4 linked regions of the Homo sapiens genome follow. The protein of the gene in region 1 purifies or fractionates together with the protein of each later gene. This does not show direct contact. Each region holds a gene or a part of one and is shown in the gene's direction. Other genes may lie near its edges.

Region 1 (7,098 bases):
AGTTCTTGTGCTGTGTTTTTCAGCTCCATCAGGTCATTTATGTTCTTCTCTAAACTGCTTATTTTAGGTAGCAATTCCTCTAACCTTTTTTCAAGGTTTTTAGCTTCCTTGCATTGGGTTAGAACATGGTCCTTTGGCTTGGAGGAGTTTATTATTCTCTGTCCAGTTTTGTTCCCTTGCTGGCGAGGAGTTGTGATTCTTTGGAAGAGAAAAGGCATTCTGGTTTTTGGAATTGTCAGCCTTTTTGCGCTGGTTTTTCCTCATCTTCATGGATTTATCTACCTTTGGTCTTCGATGTTGGTGACCTTCAAATGGGGTTTCTGTGTGGAAGTCCTTTTTGTTGATATTGATGCTATTCATTTCTGTTTGTTAGTTCTCCTTCTAACAGTCAGGCCCCTCTGCTGCAGGTCTGCTGGAATTTGCTGGAGGTCCACTCCAGACCCTGTTTGTCTGGATATCACCAGCAGAGGTTGCAGAACAACAAAGATTGCTGCCTGTTCCTTCCTCTGGAAGCTTTGTCCCAGAGGGGCACCCACCAGACGGCAGCTGGAGCTCTCCTGTGTGAGTTGTCTGTCGATTCCTGCTGGGAGGTGTTTCCCAGTCAGGAGACATGGGGGTCAGAGACCCACTTGAGGAGGCAGTCTGTCCCTTAGCAGAGCTCGAGCAATGTCCTGGGAGATCTGCTGCTCTCTTCAGAGCCAGCAGGCAGGAACGTTTAAGTCTGCTGAAGCTGCACCAATAGCCACCCATAGCACCCTTCCCCCAGGTGCTCTGTCCCAGGGAGATGGCAGTTTTATCTATAAGCCCCTGACTGGGGCTGCTGCCTTTTTTTCAGAGATGCCCTGCCCAGAGAGGAGGACTCTAGAGAAGCAGTTGGGCTACAGTGGGCTCCACCCAGTTCAAACTTCCCGGTGGCTTTGCTTACACTGTGAGGTGAAAACCACCTACTCAAGCCTCAGTAATGGCAGAAGCCCCTCCTCCCACCAAGCTCCAGCATCCCAGGTCGACTTCAGACTCCTGTGCTGGCAGTAAGAGTTTCAAGCCAGTGGATCTTAGCTTGCTGGGCTCTGTGGGGGTGGGATCCACTGAGCTAGACCACTTGGCTCCCTGGCTTCAGCCCCTGTTCCAGGGGAGTTAACAGTTCTGTCTCACTGGTGTTTCAGGTGCCACTGGAGTACGAAAAAGAAAAAATCCTGCAGCTAGCTCGGTGTCTGCCCAAACGGCTGCCCAGTTTTGTGCTTGAAACCCAGGGCCTGGGTGGTGTAGGCACCCGAGGGAATTGCCTGGTCTAAGGGTTGTGAAGATCACGGAAAAGGCATAGAGTCTGGGCCGGAATGCATCGTTCCTCGTGGCACATTCCCTCATGGCTTCCCTTAGCTAGGGGAGGAAGTTCCCTGGCCCCTTGCACTTCCCGTGTAAGGCGATGCCCCACCCTGCTTTGGCTCGCCTTCCATGGGCTGCACCCCCTGTCTGACCAGTCTCAATGAGATGAGCTGGGTACCTCAGTTGGAAATAGAGAAATCACCCACCTTCTGCGTTGATTTCGCTGGGAGCTGCAGACTCCAGCTGTTCCTGTGTTCACCATTTTAACATCTATCTGGCTCTGTTTAATTTTCGCTCCCCCCAAAAAATCCATATAAGAAATAAGTTGATTCTCAGAGTTAAGTTCCAGAAGTGTAGAGATCTCACATTAAAATAACAGTTTGCCTGAGTTTATCAAATACAAAAGTATCTATTAAATATAATTGATTATATGGATTCATTACCTCCCTTTGCAAGTAGTTACTCTGTATTTTTCCAATTCTAACCTAAGAATTTTTCAAAGTTTCTAAATTCCCCTTTGGTTCCTTAATTAGAGGCCAAATTTAATATCTGGAAAAAATGCAGTATTCAATTATCTTCTTCCTGTTCAAACAGTCCCTCTGCTATGGCTCTTCCTCAGTAGAAACAACTGGCAACAAAATTCAAGTTTATGATTCATTCATCAGCAAACATGTGAGAATCATCTACAAAGAACCAAGAATTGTGGTAAGAATTATACAAACATTTACTATGATACTGATAATAATGAAAAGCCTAATTCAACAAATAGTGATCTATCCATTTTTAAGCCCCAGTAACTCAAACATTAAAAAACTATAAATGAACAGGCCGGGCACGGTGGCTCACACATGGAATCCCAGCACTTGGGGAGGCTGAAGTGGGTGGATGACTTGAGGTCAGGAGTTCAAGACCAGCCTGGCCACATGGTAAAACCCTATCTCTACTAAAAATACAAAAATTAGCTGGGTGTGGTGGCGGGTGCCCATAATCCCAGCTACTCGGGAGGCTGAGGTGGGAAAATTGCTGGAACCTGGGAGGCAGAGGTTGCAGTAAGACAAGATCGCACCACTGCACTCCAGCCTGGGCGGCAGAGTGAGAAAAAAAAAAGAAAGAAAGAAAAAGAAAAAGAAAAGAAAAGAAAAAACTATAGATGAATGACTTAAGTGAATAACAAGTCAAGTGAGTAATGACAATATGTAGAAAAATATTCCAAGTAGAATTAATAAATTTTAATTATTTGAATGAGAAAATGCCGCCATATTCAAAATGAAAGTAAAAGTAGGATGAGATCAGCATATACAACTGCATATATTTCATTAATTAAAGATGACTAAAGAGGAGACTATCAATTTGAAAGAAGATTACTAAGATTTTGTTTTTTTAAAACATACTGAACCAAATAAAAAAAAAATAACAGTAAGACATAACTACTAACAGAAAATTTTTTCCAATGAGAATACAAGCTTATTAACCACTCCTTTTTTCATTAATGCTCACTCAGCTTCTACCAGCCTTCTAATAAGAACACACACATACATCTTTTCTATACCAAATGTGATATAAAAGATATTCAACCCTTCAAAATTTTAAGTATTGGTTATAAGTAATACTCATCTTTTTTTGTCATTTGATAATAGATGAATTTTCTAGTCCAGACAGTAGAAATAGATTATAGTTCATCAACAAATGACAAAAATTGCTGAGTGTGAAAGAATGGTGCAAAACAACACAAAACATTTTACTGTAATAAGTTATTTTTAAGCTAGCTAAGTAATTTATGAGAAAAAAATAAATTGTTCTTAAATTACTTAATACCCAAGAGGAAGAGTTTCAGCTTAAACTAGACCAAATTAAAAAAATAATAACAGTAAGGCATAACTAGATCTAGCCTTTTCTGAAGAAAATGATATTTAAAACAAGAAAAACATGTGCCATAGAGGTTGTGATATCCTCAATCTTTGAGGAAATAACACCTACATTTAAGTACCCTCACCTTACACACACTTTCTTCTTCTGATTTTGGAGTCTTTAAAATATAAGTATACTTTTTTTTTTTTTTTTTGAGATAGTCTCGCTGTCGCCCAGGCTGGAGTGCAGTGGCTTGATCTTGGTTCACTGCAACATCTGCCTCCCAGGTTCAAGCGATTCTCCTGCCTCAGTCTCCTGGGTAGCTGGGACTACAGGCACGCACTATTGCCCTAGGCTAGTTTTGTATTTTTGGTAGAGATGGGGTTTCGCCATTTTGGCCAGGCTGCTCTCAAACTCCTGATCTCAGGTGATCCACCTGCCTCGGCCTTCCAAAGTGCTGGGATTATAGGCGTGAGCCACTGCACCTGGCCCAAAATATGAGTATACTTTAAATATAAACATATAAACCATTCATAGAAACTTTTAGATGGAGACAAAATCTGAAATATATTTCAATATATAGTTAATGTCATATTAAGGGGTTAAGGGAAGAGCTGGGAGGAAGAAGGAAGATAAGACTATGAACCTAAAATTTTGCCAAGTAGTAGGATTTTTATTCTCTAAACCTTATTTCAATCAATTTAAGGTTAAAAAAATTTTGCTTAAAAAGATGCAATTTCATTTTGTGCTTAGAAAGTAAAATTAACACCACACCAAAGATAAACATTCTTGAGTTTGTTCTTTTGGAGAAATGAGTAATTTAAAAATTTAAACAGCTCTAAAATATTAATACAACTGCATAGGAAAGAGGAAAGAATGTTAGAAAATTGCTTATCAAAAACTAATGAGACCCAGGATAAGAGCTACTCATAATGATAACAATTAAATATTGAGTATTTTTCAGAAACCAAGAGTCAAATGCTTGTTATACCTTAAAGGTTAAAGGCCCCTGTTTCATAGTCATTAAACAGTTCTTTGAAATGCTATGTTAAGATATCACTAACAATTTCAATTTATAAATACACACCCATACACATTTTCTTTTCTAAATTGTCATATCCCAAACACGAAAACAATCGAATAAGAGAACAGGCTGAATAGTGATTTTTTTCTTTCAATTATTACTACTGAAACAAATCAAAACAACTCTGAGAGGTTGCCAGCACCGCAGAAGGCATTTCCACATAAAAAGAGTTAATGAGCAGACCACGCAGTTCAACAGCCAGTGACCATTTGCAAGCCTCCTAGGTATATTCCCAGCAGACACATTATCAGATTAAAGGAAGTGCAAACAAACTGGGCTGAAAGTTTCTTTGTCCAAACCCAGCCTCTTCTTCCTGTGATGTCATATTACAAATCTAGGAAGCCTTTCTTTTTCACTTCAGAGAAAGCGACCTCAAGATACAACTGGCAACTGAGGAAAAGGCCTCAATTCAACAAGAGCTAACAAGCTTGGGAGTTTATTTCGGAATCTTTAAAAGACTCTTCTGCTTACCCACAATCTGGGATCCACTGCAGGAAAACAAAAAAGGAAAACTTCATTTAAAAGAAGCAAGAAGTAAAATGGGACAAATTGGGAATGTTTAAGTCTCTGAAACTCTGCACTGAAAAGAAAATAAGATTGATAACTTAAGCTTAACATTCTGAGGCATAAAGAAACATTAACTTTGGAGTATTCATCTTGACTACTGAAATACAAGTTTAGAAGACAAGTGGTTTCATTCTGGTCACAGATCACAGCTTTTCTTTAAATTTATAATCCTATGGGTTGGACTCGTTGACTGTATTTTTTAAAGGTTGCTCGTCAGTTAACTGAGCCTTGGAATTCATGGATTTTCTAAAGACTAACAAATGAAAATATTTTCCTGTTGAAGAACCCAGCGGAAATTTTACAGCAACAAATTTCATGTTTCTTTTGGGTATTTCTGAGAAAAAGGAAATATTTATAAAACCATCCAAAGATCCAGATAATTTGCAAATAAATTGGAGGTTATAGAGGTTATAATCTGAATCCCAAAGGAGACTGCAGCTGATGAAAGTGCTTCCAAACTGAAAATTGGACGTGCCTTTACGATGGTAAGCGTTAACAGCTCCCACTGCTTCTATAATGACTCCTTTAAGTACACTTTGTATGGGTGCATGTTCAGCATGGTGTTTGTGCTTGGGTTAATATCCAATTGTGTTGCCATATACATTTTCATCTGCGTCCTCAAAGTCCGAAATGAAACTACAACTTACATGATTAACTTGGCAATGTCAGACTTGCTTTTTGTTTTTACTTTACCCTTCAGGATTTTTTACTTCACAACACGGAATTGGCCATTTGGAGATTTACTTTGTAAGATTTCTGTGATGCTGTTTTATACCAACATGTACGGAAGCATTCTGTTCTTAACCTGTATTAGTGTAGATCGATTTCTGGCAATTGTCTACCCATTTAAGTCAAAGACTCTAAGAACCAAAAGAAATGCAAAGATTGTTTGCACTGGCGTGTGGTTAACTGTGATCGGAGGAAGTGCACCCGCCGTTTTTGTTCAGTCTACCCACTCTCAGGGTAACAATGCCTCAGAAGCCTGCTTTGAAAATTTTCCAGAAGCCACATGGAAAACATATCTCTCAAGGATTGTAATTTTCATCGAAATAGTGGGATTTTTTATTCCTCTAATTTTAAATGTAACTTGTTCTAGTATGGTGCTAAAAACTTTAACCAAACCTGTTACATTAAGTAGAAGCAAAATAAACAAAACTAAGGTTTTAAAAATGATTTTTGTACATTTGATCATATTCTGTTTCTGTTTTGTTCCTTACAATATCAATCTTATTTTATATTCTCTTGTGAGAACACAAACATTTGTTAATTGCTCAGTAGTGGCAGCAGTAAGGACAATGTACCCAATCACTCTCTGTATTGCTGTTTCCAACTGTTGTTTTGACCCTATAGTTTACTACTTTACATCGGACACAATTCAGAATTCAATAAAAATGAAAAACTGGTCTGTCAGGAGAAGTGACTTCAGATTCTCTGAAGTTCATGGTGCAGAGAATTTTATTCAGCATAACCTACAGACCTTAAAAAGTAAGATATTTGACAATGAATCTGCTGCCTGAAATAAAACCATTAGGACTCACTGGGACAGAACTTTCAAGTTCCTTCAACTGTGAAAAGTGTCTTTTTGGACAAACTATTTTTCCACCTCCAAAAGAAATTAACACATGGACATTTTAAAGTCTTTAGTATAAAGAAAATTTGTATTCAATGTGTTAAGCATTAACATGTATTTTATTTGTGTATCCACTCCATCTGATTTTTCTGAGCCATTTTGATTTGTTCCTTCATTAAAAAAAATCTCTTAAAGTTATTTAGTGTCTAAAAGTGACTGACTTAAATTATGTGGTGCCAATCTGTAATGTCTTTGAATTCCTTTTTATATTAAATGATTTAATTTACTAAATTATTTTATACTAATTTATGTTTATGTAATATTTTATTCAACATACCATTTTTATTTTGAATTAAAACTACTAATCATATTTCTTAAACTATGATTAACAAATGAGAAAGAAGAGTAATTTGAAATAAATGTTTTGGGAGTATTTTAAAATATATGTATAACTAAAAACGTAGTCTTCTGTAGAAATGATGACATATTAACATTGTTGGAAGATCTTGAGCAGTAACACATTGATAACATTTTGGGAGTTTGGTCTGTGTAGGCAATTTGTAGAAAGCAGATGCTATCTATATGGTATGCTTTGAAGTTACTATTTTGATTTTCTGTATATAATGCACCCAATTTCAAAATGATATATGCCACAAAAATTGAGAGGGAGAAAACTAATAAAATGTCATTTTGCTAAGTTTTTACT
Region 2 (7,000 bases), on another chromosome or scaffold:
CTGACATCGTGCCACGGCACTGTAGTTGGGTGACAGTGTAAGACTCGGTTTAAAAAAAAAAATTACTATTGACCAGGCATTGTGGCTCATGCCTGTAATCCTAGCACTTTGGAAGGCCAAGATGGGCAGATTGCTTGAACCTGGGAGTTCGAGACCAGCCTGGGCAACATGATGAAACTCTGTCTCTACTAAAAATACAAAAATTAGCTGGGCGTGGTGGCATGCACCTGTAGTCACAGCTACTTGGGAGGCTGAGGTAGGAGGATCACCTGAGCTCAGGAGACGGAGGTTGAAGTGAGTTGAGATTGTGCCACTGCACTCCAGCCTGCATGAGACTCTGTTGCAGAAAATAAAAAATAAAAAATAAATTACTACTGATAGAAATGCATGCATGGGCTTGTTACAAAATTTAGAAGTAGAAAAGGGTAAGGCCGGGTGAGGTGTAATCCCAGCACTTTGGGAGGCTGAGGCGGGCGGATCGTGAGGTTAAGAGATCAAGACCGTCCTGGCCAACATGGCGGAACCCCGTCTTTACTAAAAATACAAAAATTAGCTGGGTATGGTGGCGTGTGCCTGTAGTTTCAGCTACAGCGAGGGCTGAGGTGGAGAAACGCTAGAACCCGGGAAGCGGAGGTTGCAGTGAGCCTAGATAGCGCCACTGCATTCCAGCCTGGTGACAGTCTCAAAAAAAAAAAAAAAAAAAAGGAAAGGGTAGTGGTTAGTGACAAGCCTCCCCTCCTACCCCTCTCTCCTGGCCTGCCCAGTCCAGAGGAGGCCTTTGTTATCAGTTTCCTGTCACTCTTTTCTGAGCTATCGTAGTCAAAGGATGTCCTAGGACAAACATATGTATATTTAAAATAAGGTAGCACACTATACACAGAACTACGTATGTAGCCCCTCTTTCACTTAAATTTAAATCCACGTGAATTATGGAGATCTGCTAGGAGCTGCCTCATTCTGTGTGTTGGCTACATAGATTCCACTCTAGGCTATGCCACATTTATTTAATAGTCCCCAGCTGGGGAACTCTTAGGTTGTTCCCAGTCTTTCTTTCCCTCTCTTTCTTTCTCTTTCTTTCTTTCTTCTCTCTCTCTCTTTCTTTCTTTCTCTTTTCTTTCTTTCTTTCTCTTTCTTTCTTTCTTTCTCTCTCTCTCTCTCTCTCCCCCCCCCGTCTCTTTCTTTCTTCCTTTCTTTCTTTCACTGAGAACAGTGACACAGTGAGTATCTCTGAATGTGTCATTTTGCATGGGTGTATATGTCTGTGGAGTAATTCTAGGAGTGGGGTTGTTGAGTTAAGGGGTATATGAATATATGTTATACATGCAGACACGCACCTGCCATCAGTATATACAGCTTGATGAGTTTTCACAAAGTGAACACACCTGTACACTGAGCCCCCAGGTCAACCAGCAGAATGGACAGCAGAAGGCAGATACCCCTCAAACCCTCTTCTAGGCACTATCTCTTACCTTTGTGGGTGATCACCACTGGATTATCTAGCAGTATAGAATAGCTTTGCCTGTTTTTGTATGTGCATTTAACATTTTGATGTTATTAAATTGTCCTATATAGAGGTGACACCAATTGTAATATTATTTACTTAATATGTTTATTTAAATTTACTTACTTTTTTTTTTTTTTGAGACAGAGCCTCGCTCTTTCACCTAGACTGGAGTACAATGGTGTGATCTTGGCTCACTGCAGCCTCTGCCTTCCAGGCTCAAGCGATTCTCCTGCCTCAGCCTCCCGAGTAGCTAGGACTACAGGCGCCTACTACCACGATGGGCTAATTTTTGTATTTTTGGTAGAGACGGGGTTCTACCATGTTGACCAGACTGTCTCGACCTCCTGACCTTAAATGATCCACCAGCCTGGGCCTCCCAAAGTGCTGGGATTACAGGCGTGAGTCACTGTGTCCAGCCTAAACTTCCTTTTTAAACTTAAATTTCTTTTCCTTTTTTTCCCTTTTTTAAAGTATATATTTTTTATTTTCCAGGCACATAGGTTCAAGTTGCCCTGAATATGCACGCCTTTAAATTTATTTTTAAAAGGAGGCTTTATATCAGTATTATGAATGGGAAACCAAGACGCCCATCATAAATAGCAGGTAAAGGTTTAAAATAAGTACAGTACAGGGAAAACAAAACAATGATACTAAATCCTAGCTGGATGTCATGGGTGCTGAAGGCTGTGACCCTGACGCCTACCCTCTCTGTTCAAAAGGTAGGTTGGCAAGTGCTTGAGGGGCTGAAAGACAAACTAGCACCCAAACTGAGACCCGCTCCTTGATGCAATCGGAGGGGTCGAAAGGGCATTGAACGAGGAAAGCTCAGTCTGTAAGTCCCTATGATAGGTATACCCCTAAACCACTTATGGTTATCTGTCCCACACTCAGGGCCCTCTTGTTTTCGGCAGGGAACTTTGGGGCTGCAAAAGGGTGTGTTTGAGGCTCACTTGTCAGAGCTGGCATGTACCCCAGGTCCCTGCATCCTCAGGTAGGTGCTCCTTGGCCCTTCCAGTAAGTCATGGGGATGTCTGCGGGAGAAATGAGCTCACGCTGAGGCACTTAGAGCCTCCTTTTCCCACCACACAGGGTGAATCATTCTGACACATGCGCCCTCAGCCCATTGGGGACACACCTCTAATTTTAGCACTGCCCACGGGGTATCTTAGAGATCCGTTTACAGGACTGCTTTTCCTTGCTGGACTGTGGGCTCCCAGAGGTCAGGATTGTAGTTCATCCATATCCTCCTCTGAATGCTGCCCCTGGGGCCTGTGCACACAGTAGGTGCTCAGGGGAGGCATGTTGCATGATGGTGATTGAGTCCCACTTGTACCTACAAGGCGAGGATCCAGCTTGGGGCAGAGGCCTGGCTGGGGGTGTAACCCGCAGTGGTCAGGTCTGCTGAGGCCTTGACTTTGCAAAGTGGGCAGGGCTGATCATGGTGCTACGGACTCTCCACAGAGCACCAAGCCTGTTTCCTTGATAACAGGGTAGGACTTTCAAGTGGGTAAAGGTGTCATGGCTGGGGAGTGTTGACTAATCAGGAAGAAAAGGACTTGGTGGGAGTTGGGGGCAAGTAGGGAGGAGCTGAGGGTGGGTAGGTGGTGGAGGCAGCAAATGCCAGAGGCAATAGGAACTCTTTCTGGGCTTTCTCCAAGGATGAACCTGCTTATTAGAGCTTGGCCTGTGATTTCTTACATTTCTTATAGTTTAATGGTTAAGAGTGTGGGCTGTGTACCAGGTTGCCTGGGTTCAAATCCCAGCTCTGACACTTAAAGGTTAAGTGGCCTAGACATAACTTCCATGCACCTAACCTACCTGAAGAGTTGCTAAGCAGATTAGATGGATTAATACATCTGAAGAGCTTAGAGTGGTGCCTGGCACATGATGAACACTCCATCAACTAGTCATGGATTAGTCGTTCTTTTCCTGCCTTCCTCTCTAGCCTTGCTGCTCAAGAGCCATAGACTAAGAATGAGAAGGGCTGTTAAAGACACCTCTAGTGCAGCCTTTTAAATTTACCGATAAGAAATCAGAGGCCTGAAGAGAAGTGAGTTGCCTGAAAGCCCACAGCAAGTCAGTGACAGGCCAAGACCAGATCCAGGCTGCCTGACTCCAGTTTCTTCCTCGGGCCCCCATGACCTTTCCAGGCGCCATGTATGTTTCTCCCTGGTCTCAGGGTGAGGGTAGAAGATAACCTTTCTGAAAGAGGCCACGTCCCTGGCCTCCCAGTGAAGCACTAGGTGAAGCCAGGCCAAAAAGAAAGCACTTCTCTGGAGACAGTTTCCAGGAGATTTTTACTTTCGAGAAGAGCTTTATTATTTTTGTGAAAATCATACATGCGCATAGCTTAAAAGATTCAAGCCATTTGGGAAAGTACAACGAAAACAGCAAAAGTCCCCTTTGATTCTACCACTGGGATTCAGCCACTGTTATATGTTGGTAAACATCCATCTGGACATCTTGTACATATATGTAGACATTTTATTTCTTTAATTATCTTTCTTATTGTGTTTGATTTGTCGAGCAAAGTTCATTTTCTGGCTCTAGGTAAGCATTCCAAATAGTGAAACTCAAATAGTGAAGCTGAAAGTGGGGCAGCCTTCATATTGGAGAAGTGGCCAGCCGTGCCTAACGGGCTGTCAGAGATGATCTCATAGCATCAGACTGGGCTCAGGCCTCGGGCACAGAGAGGTCCTCCCCTCCCCCAGTCTGGCCACAGAGCCTTTAAAATCCAGAGAATCAGGGCTGCAGCCCTGCCAGGGGTTTGGAGAACCTTCCAACACCTTCATTTTATAGATGAGCAAACTAAGGCCCTGAGAAGTGTCCTTCGCTCTTAACCTAGACTTTGTACATGGTCTCGTTCCCCGCTTTAATAGAGGAATTGCTTTATGTCGTAGGACTGGACCTTGCTGCCTTTGGGTTGGTTCCTGGAGAAGCAGGAATAACCACCTGCCCTCCTGCCCGGAGGCCTTTCTTCCCAGGTGACTCACAGTGCCACCCTGGGGTGGGGCTCACGGTCAACCTGATAAGGGACTGATAATGAAATTTCTGTACCAACTGGCTCCACACAGGGGAAAGATGTTTTCTGGGTAAGTCTGGTCAGAAGAGGTTGATGGGGGGAAAACAAAACAGACAAAAAAAAAAAAAAAAAAAACAACAACAAAACAACCTTTCCCAGAGAGAACTTTTAGATGTGAATGGGTTTGAATTGACTTCTTGTTGGAAGGCAGGAGCATTCAGTCTTAACCAGCCGTGCTCTCTGGTTGGTTGGTTTGTTCATTAAGTCAACAAATAGTTATTTGATGCCTACTGAATGCCAGGCACTGTGATACCGTGATAGGTGTGGGAAGCAACTATGAACAAGACAGGTTTAGTCCAGGCCTTGGAAGACAGAGCAGTAAATAAATATCACTTGTGATAGGTGCTAAGGAGAAAATTAGGGAGCAAGTGGGGAGGGATGGGCGTTTCCACTTTCGATGATGTGGTCAGGGAAAGCCTTTATGAGGAGCTGACATTTCAGCTGAAGCTCAAATAGAGAAGGAGCCAGCCATAAAGACTTGTCCAGAGCATCCCAGGCAGAGAGAGCCATGAGTTCAAAGTCCCTGAGGCAGGTCGCAAGCATGGCTACAGCAGATGAGGAAGCCCGGGAAGGGCTGCGCTGTGGGTGGAGAGGGTGGCAGGGGCCTGGCTGTGTGAAGAGTTTGGGGTTCGAGTGACTGAGAAGCAGGGTTTCATTGTCAGGCCCTGTGGTCTTGCCATCCAGAGACCTAGATCAGGTGTTGGCTATTCTGTGTGACACTGGGTAAAGGACCAGCTCTCTGAGCCTCCGAGATGCCTCCTCTGTGGGTACCCCAGAGGGCAGTGGGGAGGATCCTGTGAGATGAGAGGTGCCAAAGCACGGGGCCTACTCTAGGGTCCCCCACCCACGGAGGGAGGGAGACTCTAGGCACCCCCCCCCCACGAATGGAGGGAGACTCTAGGGCTCCCTGCCCACGGAGGGAGGGAGAGTCACCTGGGAGCCTTGCATTGCTCAGGGGTAGTTGGGGAGATGAGATGAGATGAGATGAGATGAGATGAGATGAGATGAGATGAGATGAGAACCTCTGGAATCCGTCTTGTCAGAGGAGGCTCCTTTGCCCCTGGGGGTACTCAGCCTGCCTAGAACAGATGGCTATGGAACCAACTCCTCCAGCCAGCTGGTCTGACCCCTAGGGTGTGCATGTGGTCTTTTCCAGAGGCTGGGCCCCTCCCACCCCTTAGTTTCTGGGCTACCATGGCACACTGTCAGAAGCACTAGGCCACAACAGGCACGCGGGGCCAGGCAGGCCGTCTGAGAAGTGTCCTGCTAGGCTCTGAGGGGTCCCAGCCCTCGGTCAGCATGAGTTGTTCAGCTCCAAGCTAGGCCCCTGGGCTGGTGGAGGTGAGGAAGAGACACCGTAGAGACACTGTAGACTTACGATGTCACCTTCCCCAGCTAGAGGGTTGGCCTGTGAAGGAGCTGGCAGCCATCTCTGCCTCTGGCGATGTGCCATGTTAGCCCAGGAACTAAGGGGTGGGAAGGGCCCAGTCCCTGGAAAAGACCACATGCACGCCCAAGGGGTCAGACCAGCTGGCTGGAGGAGCTGGTTCCATCAAGGGCCAGTCTGAGCTAGGCTGCCTGACTGTGGTGGCCTGACCACCACATTTTGCTTCATCTCTTTGGATTCTCAGAGTGACCCTTGAGCTGGGCTGGACAGGGGGTCTTGTCCTGTTTTACAGAGGAGTCTTTGGGAGGACTCTGAGGGCTTCACTGGGCAGGGAGGCCTCGCAGAGAGGAGTGGAGATGAGTCTTAGGAGAGGGAGGGCGGGCTACAGAATGTTTTTTGGGCCTGAGTGTTGAGGTCAGAAATGTCCTCTGGGAAGACCAGGTCTGGAGGCCAAGCAGAGCTGAGGAGGATGAGCACTTCTTGGTTGGCGGGTGAGGAGAAGGTCCATGTGACAAGTCATGGACAACTCTCTGTGCCTTGGTTTTCTTGTCTGCTGGGAGGGGATAACTGTTGTGCTGCCCACAGGGGTGAGGCTTAGATGAGGCAGTGCCCACAGAGCGCTGAGTGGGCATCTGGCTGGGTAACCGTTCATGCAGATGCTGGGAGGAGACGCCGTCTGCCACGTGTCTCACCACAGTTTGCTTCATCTCTTTGCATTCTCAGAATGACCCCATGTGCCTTGTCCCATTTTATAGAGGAGGAGACTAAGGCCCTGAGCGGGGAAGTAACTTGTGTGAGAACCATCATTTGCATGTGTTCCTGGGACAAGAACTGTTTCACTGTGGGAAAGGTTACTGTTGGGTTTTAATTTTTTCCAAAAGGGACTTTCTCGCCAAGACATTTGCATCTGGGCCTGCAGGGAAGCAAGTATTTCACTGGAGGGTGGAAGGAAAACAGCCTTGGCCCAGATGGGCTTGTTTTTCCCTCTTCAGAGCCCTCCCACTTCCTGCCTGGGAGAGCAGGAACC
Region 3 (6,887 bases), on another chromosome or scaffold:
GGTTCTCAAGTTAGTCAACCAATACTCTCCCTGAGCAGTCTCCAGCTTATAACCAAACCCAGCATTCGTTTACTCATCTTCAGATTCCTTGCCATAGTCAGTCCTGTTTCTATGCCTTCACTTATATAGCACAGCCCATATGCAATGCCTTACTCTGTGCCAATCTAAATGCAACGTACCCACCCTTCGAGATCAGCTATCATCTTCTTTCATTAGGCCTTTGCCAAGCATTGCAGTACATTCAAGCCTTTGTCTAAAACCATACTAGACTTGTCTTCTTGACAAAATGGTACTTCCTAATAGTCTCTAGTTAGTTCAAATATGTGGGCCTTGTTTCATCAACTGTGCCTCTAAAAGCTTGAACATAAGTTTTTGCACAATCACGGCTCACTGCAATCTTCTCCTCCTGGGCTCAAGCCATCCTCCCGCCTCAGCCTCCCAAGTAGCTGAGACTATAGGCACACACCATCATGCCCAGCTATAATTTTTGTGTTTCTGTTGAGACAAGGTTTCATCATGTTGTCCAAGCTTGTCTTGAACTCCTGGGTTCAAGTGATCCTCCCTCCCAAAGTGCTAGGATTACAGGCGAACATAAATTTTTATTCCCTGACAGGCTTGCAGTGTGCTAGGCATACAGAAGCTGCTTAATGAATTCGTTTAATGGTGTAATACTAAACAAATATTATTTACATAAATAATAACAATAATATCATGGCATTGATATCTCCACTTTGGGTGAAACTGGGCTTTTTAATGGACTACACAGGAGGCTACATGAGGCAGTATGACACAGTGGTTAAGAGTATAAACTCTGAAGCCAAAACTGCCTGGGTTCAAATCTTGGTTCTACCACCTACTGGCTATATGGGTACTGATATTTTCTTCTATTTTCAAGGAGGGACACAAAGATGTTAGTTAACCTTAGGAAGGTACCTGTGTCATGAAATCATTATGGAGATAAAGCAAGTTATGTTAGATACTTGAAACAACTTCTGGCATGTAGAAATTGCTCCATAAATGTCAGAAATTATTAAATGTTCATTACACATAAAATGATAGCATCTCAGAGATAAAAGAACTTTTGCTTTATAAATGAATGAGCAGAGGTATCAATGTAAAATGATTGGCCCAAGCGCATATGGCTAATCAGAGGCCAAGTCAAGAACTCAGCTCTCCTTTTTTCTATTCAGTGTTTGTTCTTTCCCCTCCTTAAGGATTTTATATCTGAACACAAATTACAGAATCTTCAAGTTCAAAGGGATATTTAAGACTTTACAATTTAATTTTCCCATAAGGGACCATATACTGTACCATCATTTGTCACAAACCTTTCATCTTTCCCAACAGCACCATTTCCCAGATTCTTAATCACCCAGACAAAAAGAGCCTAACAAACCTTGCACTGTGGCTCCCAAGTTAAGAAACACATGAAGGATGGGTATGGATGCCAAGGTCAGGTTGCCTGAGTTCAGATGACTATCACCAGATGAAACCATTCTTAATGATCATCTTTTGAAAAATAAGATTTCTTTTTTGGGGAAAACACTGTCTGGGATACTCATTATAAAGCTGTGATTCAGGCCATCCCACACAAACATGGATGTTTTGCAGACAGTATTCTTCCCGGTAGGAATCTGAAGTTATGATTTAGATGAACTCTGAACAATACTCTAAAACAGCCAGGAAAAGGCACAGGAGCCAACTAACCATACCAGGCATAATTTCTGAAGGCTTCAATTTTCTGTGTGGTTCTCTGGAACAGTATTCAGCCTGTTTGTGCAATCAGCTATGTTAGAGTTTTTTAAATTCAATCTAACAGATACAGACTCTCAAGAGGAACTGCAGCAATAAAAGATTGCTATTATCTATGCACTAATAAACCTGTGTGTAAGGATTCTTTCATCAGATGCAATGACATGCTATTCTGTCTCAATTCAACACTAAGGGAAGAGATTTAATTTCTCTTTAATGCAAATGAAATCACTGTATGTAGTAGCAGCAGTACGGAAGAAGGCCAAACTGAGTAACTGTGTTATGTGTCCACTAAGAATGTTCATTCACTCCTCTCAGTCCTGCTACAAACAAGGCTCAGGAAATCCACATTCTTTCTGTATGATTGTTTTAAATGCCTGAATGTAGTATATGGACCCTCAGCTTTATGGCTTAGGATTTTCTTTCCCCCTGCCTTGCCTTTGTCAGTCTATGGTTTGACATTTCTAACCCTCAAAACAGGGAGGTTCCATTACAATCTGAAAGTTGAATTACTTTACTTTCTTTATACTGAAGACTCAACAGATAGTCTCCACTGATCACACAGAGGATGCACTGTCCCTCCTTTGTGTTTCTGTAGTATTTTGCTTATATTTCTAACCCTACTCGTGATTATCTGACTTGTTACACCTTGGTGTGTGTATATCTCCTTTGTGCACTGTAAACTCCCGAGGACAGAATTCATGTTTTATATATTTCTGTATTGTTCCAGAACCTTATGATGTCTAAGACATAGGAGCTGCTCAATAAATGTTTCGACAGTTTTAATGGTACATATGTTATGCATTTTCCAATTATACAGTTATTATTAATGAATTCTCATTTCTGACATATCTCTTTTTCATTTCTTAGAACTCTTGGTTTTGAAACATGTAAAAAAGACTTTAGCAGGCTGGCACTGTAATTTGAATGATTATGTAAACAGTAAGGGAGTGCCTAGCAAATATTTGTTGAATAGTAATTTTACGAAAAGTTGCAGAGGTTTCTTTTGAGTTTTAGTTAAGAAGATCCGACCATCTCAGTGGAATAGAGGAAAGAACTCAGAGGCATGACTGCGAGGGTGTCCCAGAAAGACTACTGTGCCTTCTAGAAAAAAGACCCAGCACCCAAGTTCTAACTCTGAGACCCAGTCATATGTTTGGATCATAGCATTTCCAAGACCAAAATTTCCTCTTTAATAGTTTTTCTGAGAAACTGTCAGGTTTAACGTCAAGAAACATTTAGTCTGTGCTCATTAGGCCCACAGACATGACGAGCTACATGATTTGAGGGGCCCAGTCCAAAATAAAAATGCAGAGCCCCTTGTTCAAAACTTAAGAATTTCAAGACAGTGACGGAAGAGCATCAGCCAAATGAGGAGCCTTTTTAAGCACAGAGCCTTGTGTGGCTGCACAGGTCCCAAACCTATGAAGCTAGCCCTCTTCTGTGAAAGGCAAAAGGTCTGTAGCTAGGGAGAGAAGCTACAATTCAAATATGCACAAGGGGCTACAAGAACCCAGAGCTCCTAACTTTGTAAAAACATCACAGGGAAGGTGAGTTAAGCTCATTTTTGAGGGAGCAGCTGCATAGGGAAGAAAGATATTCCAGATTGAAGGACCAGCACTGAAGGTGGGCACAATTTACCTGACGTTCAGAAATACTGTAACTTTTAAGCAGGGTTGTGCCAGTGAACATGAGGGTGAGAACAGGTTGAGGCTGGAAAGGCAGGCAGAGGCCACATACATGGGAGAAGGGGTTGAACAATTACTGAGTGCCTCCTGTGTGCCAAGTTCTTTCTCTCCGACATTGTAAATACCACAATCTTGTAAATACTGGGTCATCCCTGTTTTACAAACAGGTTAATTTAGGCATCACACAGATTTAATGTTCAAAGGGTTTGGAACACTCTAGGGATCTAATAAATATTAATATTTGAAGAATTACTGGTGGGTCTGACTTAAGGCACACAACTCTTACCCTTTAGGCCAAGCTGCTCCTAAGAGTTCTTCTTAATCCCTCCAGTCGTTGTTTCTCTCATCTCTCAAGAGCCCCCAAATTACCCTTCCCTCCCTTAGCCACGCCCCCGCGTTTCACGTGCCGGAAATTAGGAGGAAAAGTACTTCCGGGATAGTAAAGGTCGGCCCGCGCAAGATGGCGGCCCCCTTGGAACTCAGTTGCTGGGGAGGCGGCTGGGGACTCCCATCGGTTCACAGCGAGTCCCTGGTGGTGATGGTGAGGCCGCCTCGCGGGCCAGGGCGCAGGAGGAAGGGGCGGGGCTGGAGGCGCCAGGCTGACTTGCCCCAGTTTCCCGCTGCGCTGCGGGGTCCAGGAGGGCCGAGCCGCTGCACGCTGCATTGCCCTGGGCTCCCTCCCACCGACGAGTCCCAACCTGGCCGATACCCCCGCCGAAGGCCGGCGGCGACATCAAGGCTTCTCCGCTTGGCTCCGAGTTTTGTCCGCCTCACAAAGCTGTCTGGGCGGTGGAGTGAAACCCCGAAGCAAGGGGCGCGCCCTCCCTACTCTGCATCCCCAGGACCTTTTGGGGAGCAAAGTCCTCGAAAGCCGGGTGGCTGGCGCCCGCGTCCCTACTTGAGATCACGGGGAGGGATGCGGCCTCAGTATCAGTCGCCTTCTGCCTTTGGGGGATGGGGCTGTGAAGTAAAGCTGCTCTGCAGCTTTGCATTACGCACTTGGTCTAAAATGTTTGATTGCAAACTCTGTTTCAGGCTTATGCCAAATTTTCTGGTGCACCCTTGAAAGTCAATGTGATAGATAACACCTGGAGAGGTTCAAGAGGTATAGTGTAAACCTTTACACTCCCCTTTCTGCACTCTTTTTTTTCTTCTTCCATTTAAAGCTGTGAGGTATATAGCTATAATATTGAGGATTTAGTTTCTTACCGTGACCTTGGCTCTGTGTTGTTTATGGTTTGATCATTCTGAGTAATACCTCAAAGTGCAAGCGAAATCACTGGAAATTATGAGAAACGAAAATGTTCTTTAGAACCGCTCTTTGTGAAACAGCAAAAAAACCAAGACAAGCTTACTCATTTTTTCCCCTCTAAATGTGCAACTGCTATAGTTTTTAGGATATTGGAATCTCTCAGAGGAAATCACACTGTGTCCTTGTATGTAAACTGTTTTTTGATTATAGGCGATGTACCAATTTTGACAACTGAAGACGACATGGTTTCTCAGCCAGCAAAAATACTAAACTTTTTAAGAAAACAGGTGGGTGGTTCACTTTGAAGAAGTAGATTGGTAGATTGTTGATCCCTGCATGTTGGGCTTTATTTTATTTATTTATTTTTTTTTGCCAACTCATTAGACAATTGGAGATACCTGGGACAAGATGTAAAAATAGATTTGAGAATCACTGCTCTAAAGCATGAGTTCTGTGATTTGAAAGTCATATGAAGAGGTAGTCAGTTTATATTTTAATAAACTTTGCTTGAATTTTATTGAAATTTGTATGTAAGTAGATTTAATTAGCCATTTTCACTATTAAACTTATTGATAGGATTGTGTATTTTGTCACATAGTTGGTACACATTTTGTGCTGGGCATGACACCTGAGCTCTCACCAACTAGCAACTATATTATTTTTAAAAAGCTCTTAATAGCAGTTTTATGGAATAATGTATCTAAATGTTTTAACAGTAGAGAATTATGTATCCAAAATGTTTAAACATGTAAAGATTTATATGAATGGATAAGTTATTTGTTTTGCCAATACTGTACTTAAAAAAATTGTGTCAATAACATTTTGAACTTTTATAAATTGGAAGGTTTTTTCTTTTGTCTTGGGGAGAAACACAGCCAATTGGAACTGTTTCCTTCTTGTTAAAAATAATAGTTGCTTTGTTTGTACTACATGCCATGCACTGAACTAGGTCATTAACAAGCATGAAAATAATAGTAGTTAATATTGTAACATTTATTGACCATATTGTGTATGTGATGCTGTGCTAAGAACTTTATGTGCATTAAGCAATAGGTTTCACTGGATTTGTATTTCTCTTTCTCCCATTTTAATACCACGTTTGCTATTTGTAAGGAAAAATATGAATCCTGATTTGATTAGTTTTACTGTCTTTGGGCTGCTCTTTGACTTCTGAGTTTCTTTGGTTTATTTTTTTTTAATAGAAATATAATGCTGATTATGAACTCTCAGCAAAACAAGGGGCAGATACATTGGCTTATATTGCTCTCCTCGAAGAGAAGCTTCTCCCTGCAGTGGTGAGTGTTCTTAAATATTACAGTATTTTAGTAGCCTAGTTGCAAATGTACATAGTCTGTTTAGAAAAAAACCAATGAGAAAAGTCTTAAGAGAAAATTTTACTTATATGTTAATCTTAATTCCTTCATATTACTGTGAAACTGGATTCTGTTAGGCATTCAACTAGTATGTGAAACAACAAAGTAAAATAAAATGTCATGTTGGAAATTCTTTGTGGGAGATGGATCTTTTTGCTCCATGTATAGAATTGGGTGTAATTCATTCATTCAACAAATGTTTATTGAACACCTGCTATGTGTCAGGCCTTGTTCTGGGTGTTTGGAAGATAGCAGTCAACAAAACTCACACATTTAAAATAATCTTGTTTTATCCTGAGTCATTCTAACTGGAAAATTTGTATGAAGACACTTCATATAAAGATATTTATGAAAAACTCTCATGTTGATTGAGTGATCTTTCATTTAATAAAAGAACATCCTTGTAGTGTTTTTTCTCTTCTTTTGCAGCTTCACACATTCTGGGTTGAGAGTGACAATTACTTTACTGTGACAAAGCCATGGTTTGCTTCACAAATTCCTTTTCCTTTGAGTTTGATCCTGCCTGGAAGAATGTCTAAGGGAGCACTGAATAGGATTCTCCTGACCAGAGGACAGCCTCCCCTCTACCACCTCCGAGAAGTGGAAGCACAGGTATAGTATGGATTATTCTTCAAGCAAGGGCCCTAGAGAGAAAGGACAAGATAAAATGCAGACTTGAGTTTACCTAGAGATGCCTTCCTCAAAAGTAGTTTTAGAGTATCTTTTCTACTTTTGAGATATAATTTCATCCTTATTAGATATACAGAGATGCCAAGGAGTGCCTAAATCTTCTATCAAACAGATTGGGAACATCTCAGTTTT
Region 4 (7,037 bases), on another chromosome or scaffold:
GCTGTAGTGCAATGGCGCAATCTCAGCTTCACTGCAACCTCCACCTCCTGGGTTCAAGCGATTCTCCTGCCACAGCCTCCCGAATAGTTGGGATTACAGGTGCCTGCCACCACGCACAGCTAATTTTTTGTAGTTTTAGTAGAGAGGGGCTTTCACCATGTTGGCCAGGCTGCTCTTGAATGCCTGACCTCGGGTGATCCACCCACCTCTGCCTCTCAAAGTTCTGGGATTACAGGTGTAAGCCACCGTGCCCAGCCAAAACTTTCTTTTTGAGACAGAGTTTCACTTTTGTTGCCCAGGCTGGAGTGCAATTGTGTGATCTTGGCTCACTGCAACCTCTGTCTCCCGAGTTCAAGTGATTCTCCTGCCTCAGCCTCCTGAGTAGCTGGGATTACAGATGCCCGCCACTATGCCCAGCTAATTTTTGTATGTTTAGTAGAGATGGGTTTCGCCATGTTGGCCAGGCTGGTCTTGAACTCCTGACCTCAGGTGATCCACCTGCCTCTGCCTCCCAGAGTGCTGGGATAAGAGGCGTGCGCCACCACACCCAGCTGAAAAACTTTTGTAGAGAATGTTTTGATAACCTTTGATCACTTGCCATATCCCAGGGTGGTGTGAAACTAGCATTTAAAAACATTAACGTACGTTTAATACTTGTTCTTGGCCTTCATTACTTAAATTTAAAAGTTTAATACATCATTGTTATACAGTCTGTAAATATTAATTAGCCTACTTGTATTCTGAGTTATTTTAATATTTGCTTGATTGCAGGAAATCTTCACCGAACCAGCAGTGTTCCTGAGTATGTCTACAACCTACACTTGGTTGAAAATGATTTTGTTGGAGGCCGTTCCCCTGTTCCTAAAACCTATGACATGCTAAAGGTAGGATATCAAAGAATGTAACCCTAGTGATCAGATTACTACCATGAAAATATTTTCAAACTTCCTAAGATTATTTTTGAGTGTTTACTTTTCCCAAGTATTATCATTTCCTAAATGAGTTTTGAGAAAATTGATATTTATGAGGATACCATGGAAAACTAGGGATGTGAAACATTCTTACATCCTAGTGCAAATAAATATGACTCAAGTCAACCAAGTCTTATTTTCAAAAAGCCTTTACCCAGAAAGGGGCAAACTTCTCGTCATCTGATTCAGAGAAACGGACATGTTGGGTAATAGTCCCAGAGTAATTAGTCCTCAGCAAAGTTGAAATTTGATTTATGCCCCCTTTAAACTTTATTTCTCTCATGTGCAGGCTGGCACAACTGCCACTTATGAAGGTCGCTGGGGAAGAGGAACAGCACAGTACAGCTCCCAGAAGTCCGTGGAAGAAAGGTCCTTGAGGCATCCTCTGAGGAGACTGGAGATTTCTCCTGACAGCAGCCCGGAGAGGGCTCACTACACGCACAGCGATTACCAGTACAGCCAGAGAAGCCAGGCTGGGCACACCCTGCACCACCAAGAAAGCAGGCGGGCCGCCCTCCTAGTGCCACCGAGATATGCTCGTTCCGAGATCGTGGGGGTCAGCCGTGCTGGCACCACAAGCAGGCAGCGCCACTTTGACACATACCACAGACAGTACCAGCATGGCTCTGTTAGCGACACCGTTTTTGACAGCATCCCTGCCAACCCGGCCCTGCTCACGTACCCCAGGCCAGGGACCAGCCGCAGCATGGGCAACCTCTTGGAGAAGGAGAACTACCTGACGGCAGGGCTCACTGTCGGGCAGGTCAGGCCGCTGGTGCCCCTGCAGCCCGTCACTCAGAACAGGGCTTCCAGGTCCTCCTGGCATCAGAGCTCCTTCCACAGCACCCGCACGCTGAGGGAAGCTGGGCCCAGTGTCGCCGTGGATTCCAGCGGGAGGAGAGCGCACTTGACTGTCGGCCAGGCGGCCGCAGGGGGAAGTGGGAATCTGCTCACTGAGAGAAGCACTTTCACTGACTCCCAGCTGGGGTAAGTCCCCTCCTGACTCTGCAGTTCAGTCATTGCCAGCACATTCTGTTCCCACAGCCCTGACAGCATGAGCTGGCACTTCTGGGGCTTGAGAGAAGGGCTTCCAGAGATAAGTGATTAAAATAATGACTTTTCAGGCAGCTGCCTAATTGACAGATCAGCCTATTTACCTCAGGGACAGGGGCCAAGCTACCTGCTCACATGGCAGCTTTGTATGGAAATGTGACATTTAGTCCATCTGTTCCAGATTAGATGCTGGCTGAAGGGACCCTACCCCTCAGCCATATGAAAATCTGCTCTAAACTCCAAAGTAGGCCAAGAATTGGAGAATTGCATGCGTATTTTCTTCATCATCCCATGAAATAAAAGGAAAAAATGCTTATTCTTAGCACGAATGCCATTTGGATAACTATGACTGTAAAAAGAGCTAAGGAAAGATGGCTGACTTCTAGATGTCTTTTTTCTTCCTTTGGTACTTGGTACCTTTTAGATTTCTAGTGTCAGTGATTTGAAGGGGTATTCTTTTGGCAGTATTAAATTATTAAAATAACTGAATTTTTAAGTCATTCCTTTCCATTCCTATTTACTTTATAGCTTGACTAATTTAGTGTTTGGAACTTAACCCTTATTCAAGTTTAATGCCTGATCACAAATTTTATAAACTGTGCACGTTACTAAGAGAAAGATTGAGAAATGGATGGCTGATTAGATCAGTAACTCCTGCAATAATGATCTAACATCATTAGGCTAAAACATTAGATATGTTATTGTCATTTGATTGCTAAAGTTGTCTAATGATAGTTGTTACCTCTAAACATCCCTTCAAGTGAAATTGTACAGCATGCTCACTGACCAGGTAGCATCATTAATAAACTACTTCTCAAAATGATGAGGGCTAATCTAATCTTAACACAGGAAATATTTTTTATGATGTAAAATTCACCATGAGATTTCTAACATTTCTTATAGTAAGCAGACCTTAGGCAATATGAGCATACTTACAAAGAGGAAAAATAAGCCGGGAGCAGTGGCCCAGGCCTGTAATCCCAGCACTTTGGGATGCCCAGGCGAGCGAATCACTTGAGTTTAGGAGTTCAAGACCAGCCTGGGCAACATGATGAAACCCCATATCTACGAGCAATACAAATATTAGCTGGGTGTGGTTGTGTGCACGTGTGGTCCTAACTACTCGAGAGGCTGAGGCGGGAGGATTACTTGAGCCCAGGAGATGGAGGTTGCAGTGAGCCAAGATTTGTGCCACTGCACTCCAGCCTGGGGAACACAGTGAGACCTTGTCTCAAAAAAAAAAAGAGAAAGTGTATCAGGTCATTGTTTATGGAGGAAAAAGCTGATAAAGGCTTTTAAACAGGTAATTCAAAATTTATGGAATGCCTACCATAGCCTAGGATTTGTGATAGCCACAGTTTTAGCAAAATGATTTTAACAGTAACAAAATTATTATCTGACATCCTCCAACAACTGGCATTCTCTCCCTCCATCTCTGTGTCCCTTGCTTCTTGAACCACCCTGTCACTTCCCAGTCTCTCGTCAACCCACTGCAATATGATTTCAGTCCCCTCCATTCCACCTAAACAGTCTCCTGACAAATGTAGCAATGATGGCCTTATCTGCTACATCCTAAGCAGACACTATATTGAGTAATATAAGCACTGCTTATATTACTCAACCTGTGGGTGGTGTTTGAGACACCATGAAATTCTCTCATCCCTTGGTTTTCAGGGCACCAGCTTCCCCTGGTTTTCCACTCACCTCTCCAGCCATTCTTTGTTAGTGTTCTCTGCGTGCTCCCTTTCTGCCTGCTCAAAGAAGGCATCTTCAGTAACCCTTCTATTCCAAGTCTTGATGCTCTTCCAGAGAGGCTCTGTGTACCTCACTTTTATCCTTATGGTTCTCAAAGTTTTGTCTGCAATTCCATCCTTGATGCCAAATTCTGGACCTATATGAAAATGTAACAACCTCCTGGAAATTTCACACTCAGTATATCCTAAACTAAACTCATCATCTCCCTATCCTCAACTTCCACCCATCTCCTCCTGCTGTAGTCTACTATTTTCAAACCTGGAAGTCATTCTTATCTTCTCCCTCTGTAGTCACCTATCACCAAGCCATATTTTTCCTTCTATGATGGGTCTTGAATTTTTACCCTTCTTTCCATTTCCATTACACAGGGCTCTCTGCCTCTGGTCTTGCTCAGTCAGAACCGTTCTCTAGGACTGTCAGAATTATCTTTCCACATGTGATTGTTTATAACCCTTCCATAATTCCACTAAGTGTTCATGCTTTTAGGCATGACCTACAAGCCCCATTGTGTTTTCAGCTCTGCTTATCACTTCAGCCTCTTCTCCTTCTACTCTTCTCTGCCATTCATCACCACCATCCCCAAACATACCCACATACCAATACCCAAACCACCTGGAACCTCTTTACTTTCCTTAATGCAAGATATTTATCCATATTCATTCTCTCTCTCTTTCCTTCTTTTCCCCCACTCCACACCTTTACATATGCAGCTCTACTTTTGTCTGACTACTTATAATTCTGGATTTAGCTCAGATACCACCTATTTTCTGACCACTTCCTTCCCAGTCTAGCTTAGGTGCCCCAGATAGCAGCCTTGTGTGAGTGTCTCTATCAGAAAAATATATTGTGGCTATTCATTTGCTTATCTGTTCTCCCTCTGGACTTTGAGATTTTTGTGAATGCTCAATCATCTTTATATTCTCAGCACCCTAAAATGGAAGTAGGCCTATAGTAGGCACTGTATAAATATATGATGAGGCCAGCACAGTGGCTCACATCTGTAATCCTAGCACTTTGGGAGGCCCAGGCTGGAGGATCGCTTGAGCCCAGGAGTTTGAGACCAGCTTGGGCAAAATAGGGAGACCCCGAGACCCCACTTCTATTAAAGATAAACAACTTAGCCTGGCGTGATAGTGCCCACCTGTGGTCCCAGCTACTCCGGAGGCTGAAGTGGGAGGATTGCTTGAGCCAGGGAGGTTGAGGCTACAGTGAGCTGTGATTGTGCCACTGTACCCCAGCCTGGGCAACAGAATGAGATCTTCTTTCAAAAAATAAGTATATGGTGAAAGAGTGAAGGAATTAAAGGAAGGAGAAATGAAATATAAATTTTACTTTTTGCCATCTAGGTTCTTTTGTTGCTCAAATTCTAGAAGTATTAGTCATACTATTTTTGGATTATTGTTTTAATAGACAGGGTAAATTGTATTATAATATTTAATCATATTTCCAAGAGTAGAAGGAACACTTGGGGTCAAGAAATTTAAAAATAATGAGTAAGAAATCTCTTCCTGAGATTTCCCCAAATTCTAGAGAGTAGAAATCATAGAAATCAACTTTTTTTCTCTGATTATGAAAGGAAAATTTGGCTCTCTGTGAAAAGGAGAGGGAGCCAGACGTATTTTGTGTAATGAGGAAGATAGATGCCCAAGGTGGTGCCTGTGCCTGTCTGACCTCCCCCTTTCCTCTGCTGGGCTCCACGCCTCATTTCAGTTCCCCAGGCTGCTCCCTGGGACACCTGCCCTGAGACCACACACTGTGTTCTCTTTGGTCCCGCATTGTCAAACTTTGTCCAGCCCTTTTTTGGGGGGGATTTAAGTTTTTATGCCTAGTGAAACTCCCACATGTAAAGGAGTATTCTTTCATATATGTTGAATATTAACTGGACAAAACCATAAACCTGCATAATGACTTAAGGTATTAAACAATGGACCTGGCTTTCCAAAAGAAGAATGGCTGGTTAAACAGTTACTAATGCAGCTAAAAACTGAGACTTGGAGTGTGAGAGAGACAAACTGATGAAACCGATGTTCTAAATCAAACTGATGAAAAAGGTTTTTAAGAATCACCACAAAAAAAATTATAGATGAATTTTTCTAAAACCATGATTTATGACCAGTTGGAGGCTGATGGTTCTGCAAATGAGTAGTAGGATCTTCATAGGTCCTTCCCAGTAAGCATCACAAAAGATGAAAATGGGCCGGACGCGGTGGCTCACGCCTGTAATCCCAGCACTTTACGAGGCCGAGGTGGGCGGATCACTTGAGGTCAGGAGTTTGAGACCAGCCTGGCCAACATGGTGAAAACCCGTCTCTACTAAAAATACAAAAGTTAGCCAGGCATGGTGGTGGATGCCTGTTATCCCAGCTACTCAGGAGGCTGAGGCAGGAAAATTGCTTGAACCCAGGAGGCGGAGGTTGCAATGAGCTGGTATCGTGCCATTGCATTCCAGCCTGGGCGAAGGAGCAAGACTCAGTCTCCAAAATAATAATTAAATAAATAAAAGATGAAAATTGAGTGAGATGTATGATGGTCTAGGAGAGGAGCAGTGAAAAATAGGATATATCATCAAGTGCTAGGTTGTGTGATACATATTAGTGTCTACAGAAATTTAAAGAACACAAGAGCAGGGCCGGGCATGGTGGCTCACACCTGTAATCCCAGCACTTTGGGAGGCTGAGGCTGGCAGATTGCTGGAGCCCAGGAATTTGAAACCAGCCTGGGCAACATGGCAAAACCCCACTTCTACAAAGTACAAGAATTAGCTGGGCATGGTGGTGCATGCCTGTAGCCCCAACTACTCAGGAGGCTGAGGCAACAGAATCACTTGAGCCTGGGAGGTCCAGGCTGCAGTCAGCCATGATCGTGACACTGCACTCCAGCCTGGGCAACAGAGTGAGACCCTGTCTCAAAGCAAAACAAACAAAACCCACAAGAGCATCGTGCTCTGGGATTAGTTGAGGGAGACTAAGCAGAGAGGGTGGATCTTCTCTAGGATTGACAGTCAAATTTGTGACCAAGAGCACTGCAGAGCAGAAAACAGATCATATTGACTTCCCTCCACGTCCTCTTAATTACTACCTGCTTTAGTTCTTTAATTTTTCATCTCTTTCAACTCTACCTTTTTTTTCCATTTCCATTTTTAACAGCCCAGTTCAAGGCTTTTTTGCCTCAGCTGAACCTTTTATAGTGCCCTCAACGCTGTCTCTCTTTCAAGAAACACATATCCATTCCAGAGTCATCTTTCCAAAGCATTGCTTT

What was found.
Region 2: the proteins of LPAR6 (region 1) and TSPAN15 purify together in Homo sapiens (affinity purification with mass spectrometry; 3 studies listed by BioGRID and IntAct, with this or other methods). This does not show direct contact.
Region 3: the proteins of LPAR6 (region 1) and MTX3 purify together in Homo sapiens (affinity purification with mass spectrometry; 3 studies listed by BioGRID and IntAct, with this or other methods). This does not show direct contact.
Region 4: the proteins of LPAR6 (region 1) and PKP2 purify together in Homo sapiens (affinity purification with mass spectrometry; 3 studies listed by BioGRID and IntAct, with this or other methods). This does not show direct contact.

The regions. Positions count from the first base shown.
Region 1 is NC_000013.11:48,410,630-48,417,727, reverse strand, and holds LPAR6 (lysophosphatidic acid receptor 6), read left to right. Parts: upstream 1-4,614; 5' UTR 4,615-5,304; coding exon 5,305-6,339; 3' UTR 6,340-6,590; downstream 6,591-7,098. UniProt on the Homo sapiens protein: Binds to oleoyl-L-alpha-lysophosphatidic acid (LPA). Intracellular cAMP is involved in the receptor activation. Important for the maintenance of hair growth and texture.
Region 2 is NC_000010.11:69,454,465-69,461,464, forward strand, and holds part of TSPAN15 (tetraspanin-15), read left to right. Parts: intron 1-7,000. UniProt on the Homo sapiens protein: Part of TspanC8 subgroup, composed of 6 members that interact with the transmembrane metalloprotease ADAM10.
Region 3 is NC_000005.10:79,988,252-79,995,138, reverse strand, and holds the start of MTX3 (metaxin-3), read left to right. Parts: upstream 1-3,876; 5' UTR 3,877-3,900; coding exon 3,901-3,981; intron 3,982-4,475; coding exon 4,476-4,545; intron 4,546-4,902; coding exon 4,903-4,979; intron 4,980-5,894; coding exon 5,895-5,987; intron 5,988-6,494; coding exon 6,495-6,677; intron 6,678-6,823; coding exon 6,824-6,887.
Region 4 is NC_000012.12:32,872,767-32,879,803, reverse strand, and holds part of PKP2 (plakophilin-2), read left to right. Parts: intron 1-771; coding exon 772-884; intron 885-1,260; coding exon 1,261-1,958; intron 1,959-7,037. UniProt on the Homo sapiens protein: A component of desmosome cell-cell junctions which are required for positive regulation of cellular adhesion.